3 linked regions of the Homo sapiens genome follow. The protein of the gene in region 1 interacts with the protein of each later gene in a pairwise test. Each region holds a gene or a part of one and is shown in the gene's direction. Other genes may lie near its edges.

The links.
Region 2: the proteins of EVI5L (region 1) and ZNF648 interact in binary tests that used the Homo sapiens proteins (3 or more experiments, as listed by UniProt).
Region 3: the proteins of EVI5L (region 1) and TBC1D21 interact in binary tests that used the Homo sapiens proteins (3 or more experiments, as listed by UniProt).

Annotation. Positions count from the first base shown.
Region 1 is NC_000019.10:7,828,425-7,832,172, forward strand, and holds the start of EVI5L (EVI5-like protein), read left to right. Parts: upstream 1-1,793; 5' UTR 1,794-1,957; intron 1,958-3,748. UniProt on the Homo sapiens protein: Functions as a GTPase-activating protein (GAP) with a broad specificity.
Region 2 is NC_000001.11:182,055,016-182,058,763, reverse strand, and holds part of ZNF648 (zinc finger protein 648), read left to right. Parts: intron 1-690; 5' UTR 691-753; coding exon 754-2,460; 3' UTR 2,461-3,748. UniProt on the Homo sapiens protein: May be involved in transcriptional regulation.
Region 3 is NC_000015.10:73,883,535-73,887,282, forward strand, and holds part of TBC1D21 (TBC1 domain family member 21), read left to right. Parts: intron 1-616; coding exon 617-711; intron 712-1,246; coding exon 1,247-1,357; intron 1,358-1,468; coding exon 1,469-1,569; intron 1,570-2,543; coding exon 2,544-2,640; intron 2,641-2,977; coding exon 2,978-3,078; intron 3,079-3,748. UniProt on the Homo sapiens protein: Acts as a GTPase-activating protein for Rab family protein(s). Essential for the establishment of male fertility, and is required for both the production of normal sperm number and sperm function.

The DNA of each region.
Region 1 (3,748 bases):
AGGCGTGAGCCACCGCGCCCGGACCCTGGGGAGGTTTATTAACAGTTCCAGAACGTTGGCAGATGCAAAATAGACAGGAAGAGGGAGGGAGAGGCAGAGAGAGCTGGACAGAGGCCGGGACCATACGTGGATGTCAGTCACTGCTTGCAAGGCCACACAGAGTCTCCTACTACAGAGAAGGTTGAGCTCTCAGACCTTAGGAAGTCCTGACGTGCCCCTCCCTGGGTCCAGCCTTCCCTTCCCCATTCTGAACTTAGGACATCTAGCTGGGCGAGGTGGCTCATGCCTGTAATCCCAGCACTTTGGGAGGCTGAAGTGGGAGAACCTGGCACCAGGAGTTTCCGACTAGCCTGAGCAACATACCAAGACCCCAGCCTCTACCAAAAAAATTAGCCGGGCATGGTGTGCACGCACCTGTAGTCCCAGCTACTGGGGAGGTTGAGGCGGGAGGATCATTGGAGTCCAAGAGTTCGAGGCTGCATTGAGCTATGTTCGCATCACTGCACTGCAAACTGGGACACAGAGCGAGACCCTGTCTCTGAAAAATAAATAAATAAAAACACACTTATGACGTCACCCTCTCTGCTATGACAAGGTCCTTCCCTGCCCCACCCCCTCCAGGGCCCATCCCTACATCTTGGGGAGGAAATAAGTCCATTTTGGTCAGTCTTGCCCGCTGTCAGTAACTGTCCCTACGAATTCCTCTCTAGCTTGAAGGATTCTCCACCTCTCCCTTCTCTGTTAAAAGAGTCACGGGCCCATTTTCATTCATTCATTCATCAAATGTTTATAAGCAGTTTCCATGCTGGGGACCTGGAAGAGACCCGACCTAGGCCCTGCATCCCGACTCCCCGAGGATCTATCAGCCTGGGAGGATGGGGAATGGGAGGGCCTATCCCTCCCCACGATCACGGCGCGAACCGAGCTTTGATGGAGAAACACGCGGCTCTGTGAGCTTTAGAGAACACATTTAACCTGGCCTGGAGTAAGACAGGGGACGGGCCTGAATCTTTTATGGGACCCGCCCCCAATATCAACCGCCCCGTCCCCAGCACAGAACTGGGCTCCTAGACGACACGGTGCCATCACGTCCCCAGTGAGTCTTCAGGATTTCTGGCCACGCCCCTTCTCAGACCCAACCCCCGAGCCCCTCCCTTGCTTGACCCCGCCCCATCTCTGGCCTAGGCCACGCCCTCCTCTTAGCCCCACCCCCATTTCATTCAACCCAGGCCTCAAGCCCCACCGCCCAGGACGCCAATGCTCCCACCAATCTCACATACCCATTGGTCAGAGAGTGTCACTTTCCCGCCCTCCTTCAGTAGCATTGGTTCCCTAGGTGTCAATCTTCTTTATGGCGCCCCCAGCAGTTGCCAGGGCCCAGGTTTGAGGGGCAGATAATAATGGACGTCTCGGGGCGTCTCGTTATTGGGCAGAAAGCCCGGCTCTGGGCGGGGCTTAGTGCCAAACGCTTGGCCGCGTCTGCCTGGTGTTCCTCAGGGCCGCAGCCTTTCCTCACGGACACACCCCCACTTTCCTTGCTATTGGTCTTATCAGGTGTTGATCAATAGGATTCCTCATTCCGATACGCAAAACTACCTGTCCTTCACCGCTTCCCTCATTTCAATTCGCTCTCTCCTCAGAGGCGGCAACCTTCTGAACGTAGCCAGGGCCCGCCTCACGGAATGGCCACGGAATGGTCAGACACCCCGTCACTCCTGGCTGGTGGGCGGGGCCAGGGCGCCTGGGGGCGGCGAATTGGCGGATGGGGCCTCGGGGGCGGGGCAGCGGCTCCTGTCAGCGGGTGAAATGGCAGCGGCGGAGCCGGCGGCGGCCGCGGTCCCGGGGGGCGGCTGAGGGGGCCGGGCCGGGGCTGCGGGGCGAACGGCGCGGCTAGGATCCGGCGGCTCAGCCCGGGGCGGCGAGGCTCGGCACGGAGATGGCGGCGCGCTCGGCGCAGGTAGGGCGGCGCGGGCCGGGCCTCCCGGGCGCCTGCTCAGGCCGGCGGCTCCGTGATGCGGCCCGCGGGGAACCGGCAGGACCGCAACTCGGGCCGTCGTGCCCCGGAACCCGCGCTGGGAGCCTCGGCATCCCCAGCCCGGGACCTTCGGAGGACCCTGGCCCCTGCCCACCCTCGTTGCCGATCCCTCCGGACCCCTCCCCAGGAGCTCCTGCAGGATCCCCCTCCCCCACTCCGTCCCCTCCCCATGAGGACCCCGCAGGCCCAGGACCCCCGTCCACCCTTTGCAGTGACCCTCAGGACTCCTCTCCGGGAACCCCCTCAGGGCTCCCCATCCCCCCACTCCGCCGATCAGCCCCTCAGAAGCGCCCCCCAAGCCCAAGAACCCCCGTCCACCTTCTGCCCTGATCTCTCAGGACCCCTCCCTTCTGGACAACACTTGCCACCCCCTCCCCGCACCCCCTCACTTCACGTCCTCCTATCTTGGGCCCAGAACTGCCCCCACCTCTCCCCAAGGAGACCAGCCTCAGGGCCTACCCGCCCCCCATGCTGACCCCACAGGACCCCTCTCTGGCCTCTGTAAGTCGGATTTCCTACCCCTGCCCACAGCCCTCAGCTCAGCCTGCTAGCCCATCTCCCACCCCAGCTGCCACATGCCCAAGGGCACCCCTAAACACCACTCCCCGGCGTCCACCCAGCACACTGTGGTAGCTCCACTGATCCTGCCCCATCTGGATCCTGGCTCCTGGATCCTGAAAAATCCACCCATGCTCAAGACCTCCCGTTGGATATTCTGAACCACCCCACTCCCCATCCAGAGCCACCCATCTTTCTGAAAACCCCAAACACACACACACACACACACACACACACACACACACACACACACACAGTCACTTAGATCCCCCAGCACACACAGAAAAACTTAAGAGCTCCAACATAGACCCCAGGCATATCTGCCCCTGCCCCCACCCACTCAACACTTCTGCACCCCTCCTCAGATCCCACCTGTCCAGGCCCTCCCAGAGTCCCCGACAGCTCCCCCAGCTCAAGCAGAGATTCCAGAGACCATGAGGTGCCTGCCGCACCCCAGGAAGCCAACTTGCCCCTCCACCAAACCAGCGCCCACACTGGAGCCTTGGAGGGTGACAGGGCCCCAGAATCCCCCAGCACCTACCCCTGTGGGAACCTGCCCCAGGCCTCTGCCAAGTTATCCATCCTTCCCTGCTGTGCCCTTTCAAAGGGAAGGACGCTCACTTTCTCTCCTACACTAGTGTCCCGAAGGAACCACTGCCCGCCCCCTGATTTATGCCACCCCCTGGCGGGAAGGGAGAGGATTCACAGCTCCTGGCTTCCGTCCTGAAGTCTGCCCCCAGCCTCCTGACCCCATCACGCCTACTGGCCTCAAATGCCAGAGCCAGCAGGGCGGTCCAGGTTGCTCCTCAGAGCTGGCCCCTGACAGCCCGAGAGTTCTTTCACCCACAACTAGTGTGTTTGGCCAAAACAAAACAGCTTCCTTCTATCTTGGCATTTGAGACCTGGGTCGGGGCCTGCCAGAAGCAGGCAGCTCTTTGTTAAGGAATATTTTCAGAAGGGAAAAATGTGCTGAAGAGGCTCGAGTGGAACATGAATGAGTTGTCTGCTTCGTTTTATTCCCCCTCGGCCGGGATGTGATTGAGCTAGAGGACCCGTGTCCCTGTGTCTTTCCGTCTTTTGTGGCTCTTCCCATCCATCCCGCCGCCCTCCCCACTCCCAGCTCTGGCCTCAGGGTCCAACCTGTAGGTTCCTCTG
Region 2 (3,748 bases), on another chromosome or scaffold:
GGTCAAGCTCTCAGTGGGCATCCTCTGCCCCCGGGTGCTTATGGGTAGCCTTCCTGGCAGTTAGGAGTTCCTCAGAAGTTACAAGGGCCTGAGAAGCCCCGCTTAATCAGTGAGGGGCAACTGGTGCCTTCCTGACTCACCCTCATTCTCCCAAGGGCTGCTCCTTATCTTTGGAAGAGGTGGCCTACACAGCCCAGGGCCTGAGAGGTAACCCTAGCTGACACCATCATGGGATGGCAGACTTCCATTCCTGGCAGGGACAGCAAAAGCCAGCCTGGTTTCCAGCTTCCTGAGTGGGGGACACTGTAAGAGTGTCTTAGGAGGACCACAGCTTGGTTCCTACCCTCTCATCGAGTTGTCCCCCATGCTGACAAAGGACACATTTGGTTAGTGGTTGGGGATGAGCACCCTAGACAGGACAAGGCACAGCTGGCACCCAGCAAATGCCCCACCCTGGCTATTCCTGACAGCATGGTCTCCTGGGGCTTATAGCAAGTGGGATCTCCAGAGGGAATAGGATGACTGGAATTTTCAGCAGAGCCAGGCCTCTGTCCTCAGTGAGGCTCAACAATATGCCTGACATGGAGACCAGTTGGAAACAGAGCTATAGTGGGAACCTCAGTCCCTCTGCTCATGAAAGTGATTAAGTACATTCTTTGTGATTTTCTCTTCGTACTTTTCTTTTTGCAGGTATCCTGAGCCAAGCAGGATACTCCTCCTCAGAGGAGTAGGCAATAGAAGCGCCTGAACATCATGGCACAAGTGGACTCCCAGGACAGGTGGGGAGAGGCGTCTCCTCTCAGCAGCTTGACTGAGGAAGCTCATGACACCCAGATGCTGAGCATGAACTTAGAGAGTGACGATGAAGATGGTGGGGAGGCCGAAAAAGAGGGCACCGCTGACCCGGTGGCCTGTCCAAGGGGCAGCTCCCCAGTAACACACGAAAATCCTGACTTGCCATGGCCCCATCCACTGGGCAAAGAGGAAGAGAAATTCTCTGACTCCTCCAGTGCTGGGGGCATGGGGCAGAAACCAGTGGAAATGTCTGGGAAAGCCAGTTGGAGCAGAGATGTGACAAAGATCAACGAGACCCAGGGTTCCCCGGGAGCAAGCAGAGCTCTGGGTTCCCTTCCCAGTGGTCTCGCACACAAATTGTTAGGTCAGATGCAACCTCTTGGGGACCGACTACCTGCGGGTGATGATGGATACTCGGGGGCAAACCAGGACGCAGTCTTGGATGTCCCACCCAGCTTCCCCAGCAATGGAAAGTATCTCTGTGCGCACAAAAGTGTAGACACGTCCGCAGGGAACTCTTCTCTGTTGTGTTTCCCCAGGCCGGGGAGCAACTGGGACCTTCCCACGCAAGAGACACATACACCAGCCCAGGCGTCGGCCACCCCAGCCAGCCTGGCTGCCGCGGTCCTGGCAAAAGCGCGGAACAGCAGGAAAGTACAGAACCAGGCGGGCCGGCGCGAGGGCGGAGAGGCTGAGGCGCGTCCCTACAGGTGCCTGCGGGGCGGGCGGGCCTTTCAGAAGCCCAGCAAGCCGCTGAGCCCCGCGGAGACGCGCGGCGGCGCCGCCAAGCGCTACGCGTGCGAGCTATGCGGGAAGGCCTACTCCCACCGCGGCACACTCCAGCAGCACAGGCGCCTGCACACGGGCGAGCGGCCCTACCAGTGCTCCTTCTGCGACAAGGCCTACACCTGGTCCTCCGACCACCGGAAGCACATCCGCACCCACACAGGCGAGAAACCCTACCCGTGTCCAGACTGCGGGAAGGCCTTCGTGCGCTCTTCGGACCTGCGCAAACACCAGCGCAACATGCACAGCAACAATAAGCCCTTCCCGTGCTCCGAGTGCGGCCTGACCTTCAACAAGCCGCTGTCGCTGCTGCGCCACCAGCGCACGCACCTGGGCGCCAAGCCCTTCCGCTGCCCCGCCTGCGACCGGGAGTTCGCTGTGGCCAGCCGCATGGTGGAGCACCAGCGCGTGCACTCGGGCGAGCGGCCCTTCCCCTGCCCCACCTGCGGCAAGTGCTTCACCAAGTCCTCCAATCTGTCCGAGCACCAGACGCTGCACACCGGCCAGAGGCCTTTCAAGTGCGCTGACTGCGGCGTGGCCTTCGCGCAGCCCTCGCGCCTCGTGCGCCACCAGCGCATCCACACTGGCGAGAGGCCCTTTCCTTGCACGCAGTGTGGCCAGGCCTTTGCCCGCTCTTCGACCCTGAAGCGGCACCAACAGATCCACTCCGGGGAGAAGGGATTCCTCTGTGCCGAGTGCGGCAGGGCCTTCCGCATTGCCTCTGAGTTGGCCCAGCACATACGAATGCACAACGGAGAGAGGCCCTACCAGTGTGAGGACTGCGGCCAGGCCTTCACCAGGTCCAATCACCTCCAACGACACCGAGCCAAGCACGGCACCTGCAAGAAGGAGCCCATCCCTTCCTCCTCTGACGAGTGAAGATAGCATCGTCGACCTCACTACTTGGAACCTTCCCAGGTGGGCCCACTCACATGGTATTGCCAGCCTCACTGGTCAGCCTCGCCTCCCAGCAGGTCGCGGGTCATCAGTGGTCCATTTGATTATTTATTTGATCCCTTGAACAGAAAGTCACCACCGAGAGAGCACCCAGGTGGGTGGTTTCACATCAGTGGTTCTGAGTGTCCGAGGTCATAAGCAATTGGAAAAGGGAAAGACAAAGTAGTGGGAGCTGATCAAACGTTGAGTTCCTTGGGTTGGGGAACCTGAATCAATCAGAAACTGCTTCTAGAATTACATGCTGGGCACTGGGCCGGGCTCCAGGGATAAGGTGGGGAAAAAGACTAACCTGTCCTACCCTCAAAGCCATATGCAAATACTGAAAAGAAGGCCTGAGGGGCTGGTCCTCTTTAGAGAAAGATGCTTTTTGGTTTTTATATAAATAAAGGAATCCCCAGAAGTGGTCCCTATGATGAACTCCCCCAAAGCAACGCCGTTTTTGGAGGAACTCAAACCCAGTCCAACATCCCATCATTTCACTTGACTGCAGAAATGGCTTTACCCTTAGGATATATCTTTATGAGTCTTGGCTTTGAAGTGGAGAAGGGCTTTATCTTAGAGAAGGTGGTTTATGTCATATTCCAGTTATTCTAGAAGTTCAGGACAGCCTTAGCATCTGAAAAAGAAGCCCATTCCTCTTTATAGTGGAATTTAGTAAGTAGATCTAACCCGAGTCTCACCCACAGAATTCATATAAATTCATATATGCCTTCTCTCTGGCTGCCTCTTTTCCTGTTTGCACTCTGAGGGCTTAAGTCATATGTGATATTTACAAAGCAATTGGCCCATTTACAGAGAGACATATATAATTTCTCCACAAAGCCTTGACCATGGTTCATGAAACCGTTTGGGTTCATTTAAATTTGTCTGAATCATTAGTCTTGACTTGAAGTGAACAAAACACCCTTTGCCCAAGTGCCATTGGCTTGTCTGCATTTCAAAATCATTAAAACCAGGTATGGAAGCCTACGTGCTCACAGTTATCTAATGAGGTTATTTCAAAGTTTGCATTACTAACAGCCATTCTGCAAAGTGTATTGATGTGTATAGTGATCTGTATAAAGTCAGTAGTTCTTAGCTGAACCTCAACTGTGAGGAATCTATGACTCCACAGATGTCCTTGGTGCACATAGGCAAACGGCACTTCTCATCTTACTGAAGTTAAATAAGATATTCCATAAGAAGGTATAGTGCCCTTTTTGGGGGAGTA
Region 3 (3,748 bases), on another chromosome or scaffold:
TGTTATAAGAACACATGTCATTGGATTTGGGGTCCACCTGGAAAGTCTTACGGATCTCGTCCGGAGATCCTTGACTTAGTCACATCTACAAAGACTCTTTTCCCCCACATGGTTACATTCACAGGTCCTAGGGGTTAGGACATGGATATGTCTTTTTGGAGGCCACCATGCGGCCAGCAATACCAACTAATCATATTCTAATAATGAGGACAAAACACCGCCTCACTCAGCACTTCCAATTCTGAGGCACAGGTGCCAGTATTATGCCCATTCTACAGATGGGGAAACTGAGGCTTAGAGATGGAAAGTCGTGTCCCCAAGACTTGCCCCCAGTGGCAGACACCCCGTTATTAAGATGTAGAGCCAGGATTCAGGTGCAGCGTTTGGAGTACAGAGCCCAAGAAGTTAAACTGTCTCTGTTCTGCAGTCCAGGTGCATGTTGGAGGACAGTTAGGGTGGCACAGGTTGAGATGAGGGACAGCATCACAGGTAGGGTGCATGGCTGGGTGAGGGTGCTGCCCTGGATCTGCCTGGGGCCTGGTAGCTGCAGCTGCTCATTCACCACTTATCAGAAGGGGAAAAGCCACCTTGTTCAGCCTCAGTTCTGTTCTCACAGGAAGAACTACAAGGCCTTATGCCAAATGTATGAGAAGATTCAGCCCCTTCTGGAAAACCTGCACCGGAACTTCACAGAGACTCGCAATAACATTGGTGAGCAAAGTGGGGTGGAGAGGGCTGGGCAGAGGGAGGGCTTGAAGCCAACCCTGCCCCCTTCTCAGCCACTTCCAGGGAGGGATGGCTCCAGGATCCTGGGAGTTGCTTTGACTTGTGCCTGGAGTTTCGCCAGCTGAACCTTGGTTAATCCACCCCACCAGTCTCTCCTGGGTGGCCCTAGATGCCCCATACCATGTTTTCCTGGGTGCATGATGTTCCTGCTGCCTGGTCTTCCTCTCTCCTTTCTTTGGCTTTGAATGAGGTTGGATTTGAACTGGACAGAGAGGAAGGGTGGGGGAGGACATTCCTGGCCGAGGGTACGGCCTCGTTAGAGGGTTGGAGGTGGGAAGAAACACAGACAGCTCAAGGTGTGGTGAGGAACTGAGCCTGGCAGGGGCTGATGTACCTTTCACAGCTCCCTCTCCCTCCAGGATGTCCTAGGGCCTGCCCATTGGGGTAGGGGAAGAAATTCACCCATAGACCTGCTGGATGTGATCTGGTGCCACCTACTTGCCCCTTGCTTCCAACCTAGCACGTGACATTCAGAAAATCTATGACAAAGATCCCCTGGGCAACGTCCTCATCGACAAGAAGAGGCTAGAGAAGATCCTGCTCCTGAGTTACGTCTGCAACACGCAGGCAGGTGAGCCTCAGCCTCCCCTTGTCAATGCCCTCCCAGGACCTGGCCCAACCTAAGCCAAGGGTCCAGGCTCTCCCACCCAGCCCCTCCTCCCCAACCCCCTCTTCGCCACAGAGTACCAGCAGGGCTTCCATGAGATGATGATGCTCTTCCAGCTGATGGTGGAGCACGACCACGAGACCTTCTGGCTTTTCCAGTTCTTCCTGCAGAAAACGGTGAGGGCAAGGCCTGAGCTCAGGGACGCCCCTCCCCAACCCCCCACTACTCCCCAAACAACTCTTTGAGGATGGGCAGGCATTGGCCACCCCAGCCATTCCTTCCAGGCTTCTGGGTCTCAGAGGAGCCTGGGAGGGTGACGCTAAACCCAGTGGTTCAAAGTAGTGGTGGTGGGGAGGCACTGAAGTGGAGAAGGGGGATGGAGCAAAGCTCTGGGTCCACCTCTCAACAAACCTTGAAAGAGCATGGCTGGCCAGGCCCAGGGAAGGTGCCCTCTCCTGGCATTTTCTTCCCCAAGCACGGTTCTCCTCCCTCCTCGCTGCTTCTTCCTCAATGGCTCCCTGTGGCCTCCAGAATAAAATCCAATAACCTTAGCCAGTCATTCAGGGCTGTTCCCTTCACATAACCTGAATTCCAGGCACACCAGGGGACTCAATAGTCCCCAGGGGCTCCCTCACTGTCCAAGTTGAGGGGTTTTGAAGGTGCAGCTCCCTGGAACACCTCCCTGGAAAGCCTTTCCTCATGATCTGCGAGAGGCTGCCCAGAACCCTCCCTCATCCCTCCCTCCACCCCACCATCCCTGCACATGTGCTTGCTGCCCTTCCCTTGTCCCAGTTGGCTCTGCCCCAACACTATTGTGTGAGGGAAGAACTGGGCAACTGGGCTCACTAGACTGTGAGCCACAGTTGAGAATCTCTACTACACACACATACACACACACACACACACACACACACTACACAGCCACCCAGAGGCGTACAACATATACAGACAAACTTGCATACACAGATCACAGTCACATAGATATGTATGCACACACTCACACACACACACTCAGACTCATAGAGACATGGGCCCAGCGCACAGACAGACACACAGAGCCTCCAGAAGTGAAGCTGGGGGAAGCAGAGTTGACTCTTCCGGTGCCTTGAAGCCAAGGGGGACTCAGTCTGTCTCCCACCATCGTGTGCAGGAACACAGCTGTGTCATCAACATTGGCGTGGCCAAGAACCTAGACATGCTCAGCACCCTGATCACCTTCCTGGACCCCGTGTTTGCTGAGCACCTAAGTGAGTGGTTCCCACCTCCTGCCACCTCACGCACCCCCCAGGCATGGGAAGGGGGCTGGGACCCAACTGTCAGTCCCTAATCATGGGGGGGCTGGAGAGCAGCAGAATCATTTGATTGCTTCTCCAGGCCCTGGGAAGAGGGTTATCTGGATGGGGTTGGAGCCTGGACAGTTGAAAGTTGACTCTAAACCATCTCCCAGGGCAGCTGGAAAAGGGGCGGCAGGCTTTTTGTATTTCCCAAGTGTTTTGCAGGCTCTGTAGTTTGGCCTCATCTGCATGTGTTTGCTGCATCATATGTGTTTTCCCCTGACCACAGCCTCACCTTCTCTCCCCACAGAAGGGAAGGGTGCAGGGGCTGTGCAGTCCCTCTTCCCCTGGTTCTGCTTCTGCTTCCAGCGTGCCTTCAAGTCCTTCGATGATGTCTGGAGGCTCTGGGAGGTGAGGTGTCCAGCTAGGGATCATCAGGCTGGGCTCCACCCATCAGGCAGAGTGGAAGCTGCAAGTCTTCCTTGCCTCCCCCTTTCTTCCTGGCTTGGATGGAGTTCAGTATCTCGGGGTTTTGTTAGGTCAGCAACCCTGCTCCCACCTTGCTGGAGGAAGCTGGAGCATCACTTTGTCCATATGTTCATTTAACACAAAGGCCCCACTGACTGTGCCTTCTGCTAGCAGTTGACACAGGAGGGCCCTATGGCCTGTGCAGTGGGAGCCTGGGCCTGCAGCTCCACTTCCCCGCTGCCCTGCCCAGGTGGCCTCCCCACGCTTTCACTTCCCCAGCTGTCCCCCCAACCCTGGCCTTCCCCTTCCCCAGAGTGCTGCTCCTGTGGAACTCTCTCACAGAAGGTGGGTCCCTAAGGACACCTGTAGTCCTGTGACCACAATCCTCAGGGCCATCAGCAGATGAACCCTCTGAGGAATGCCACCCCCACCCATCAATGCCCTGCCCATGGCCACCGCTGCCTGCAGTGTCCAGCCCAACCATCCACCTGGCATGTAGGGCCCCACAGATCTATTCCCACCTGCCTCTTGGCTGGCTGGTCTCCATGCCCAAGTCCATGACCACACCCAGGCCTTTGGTGACATCCTTGGGTCATTTAATTCCCATCAACCC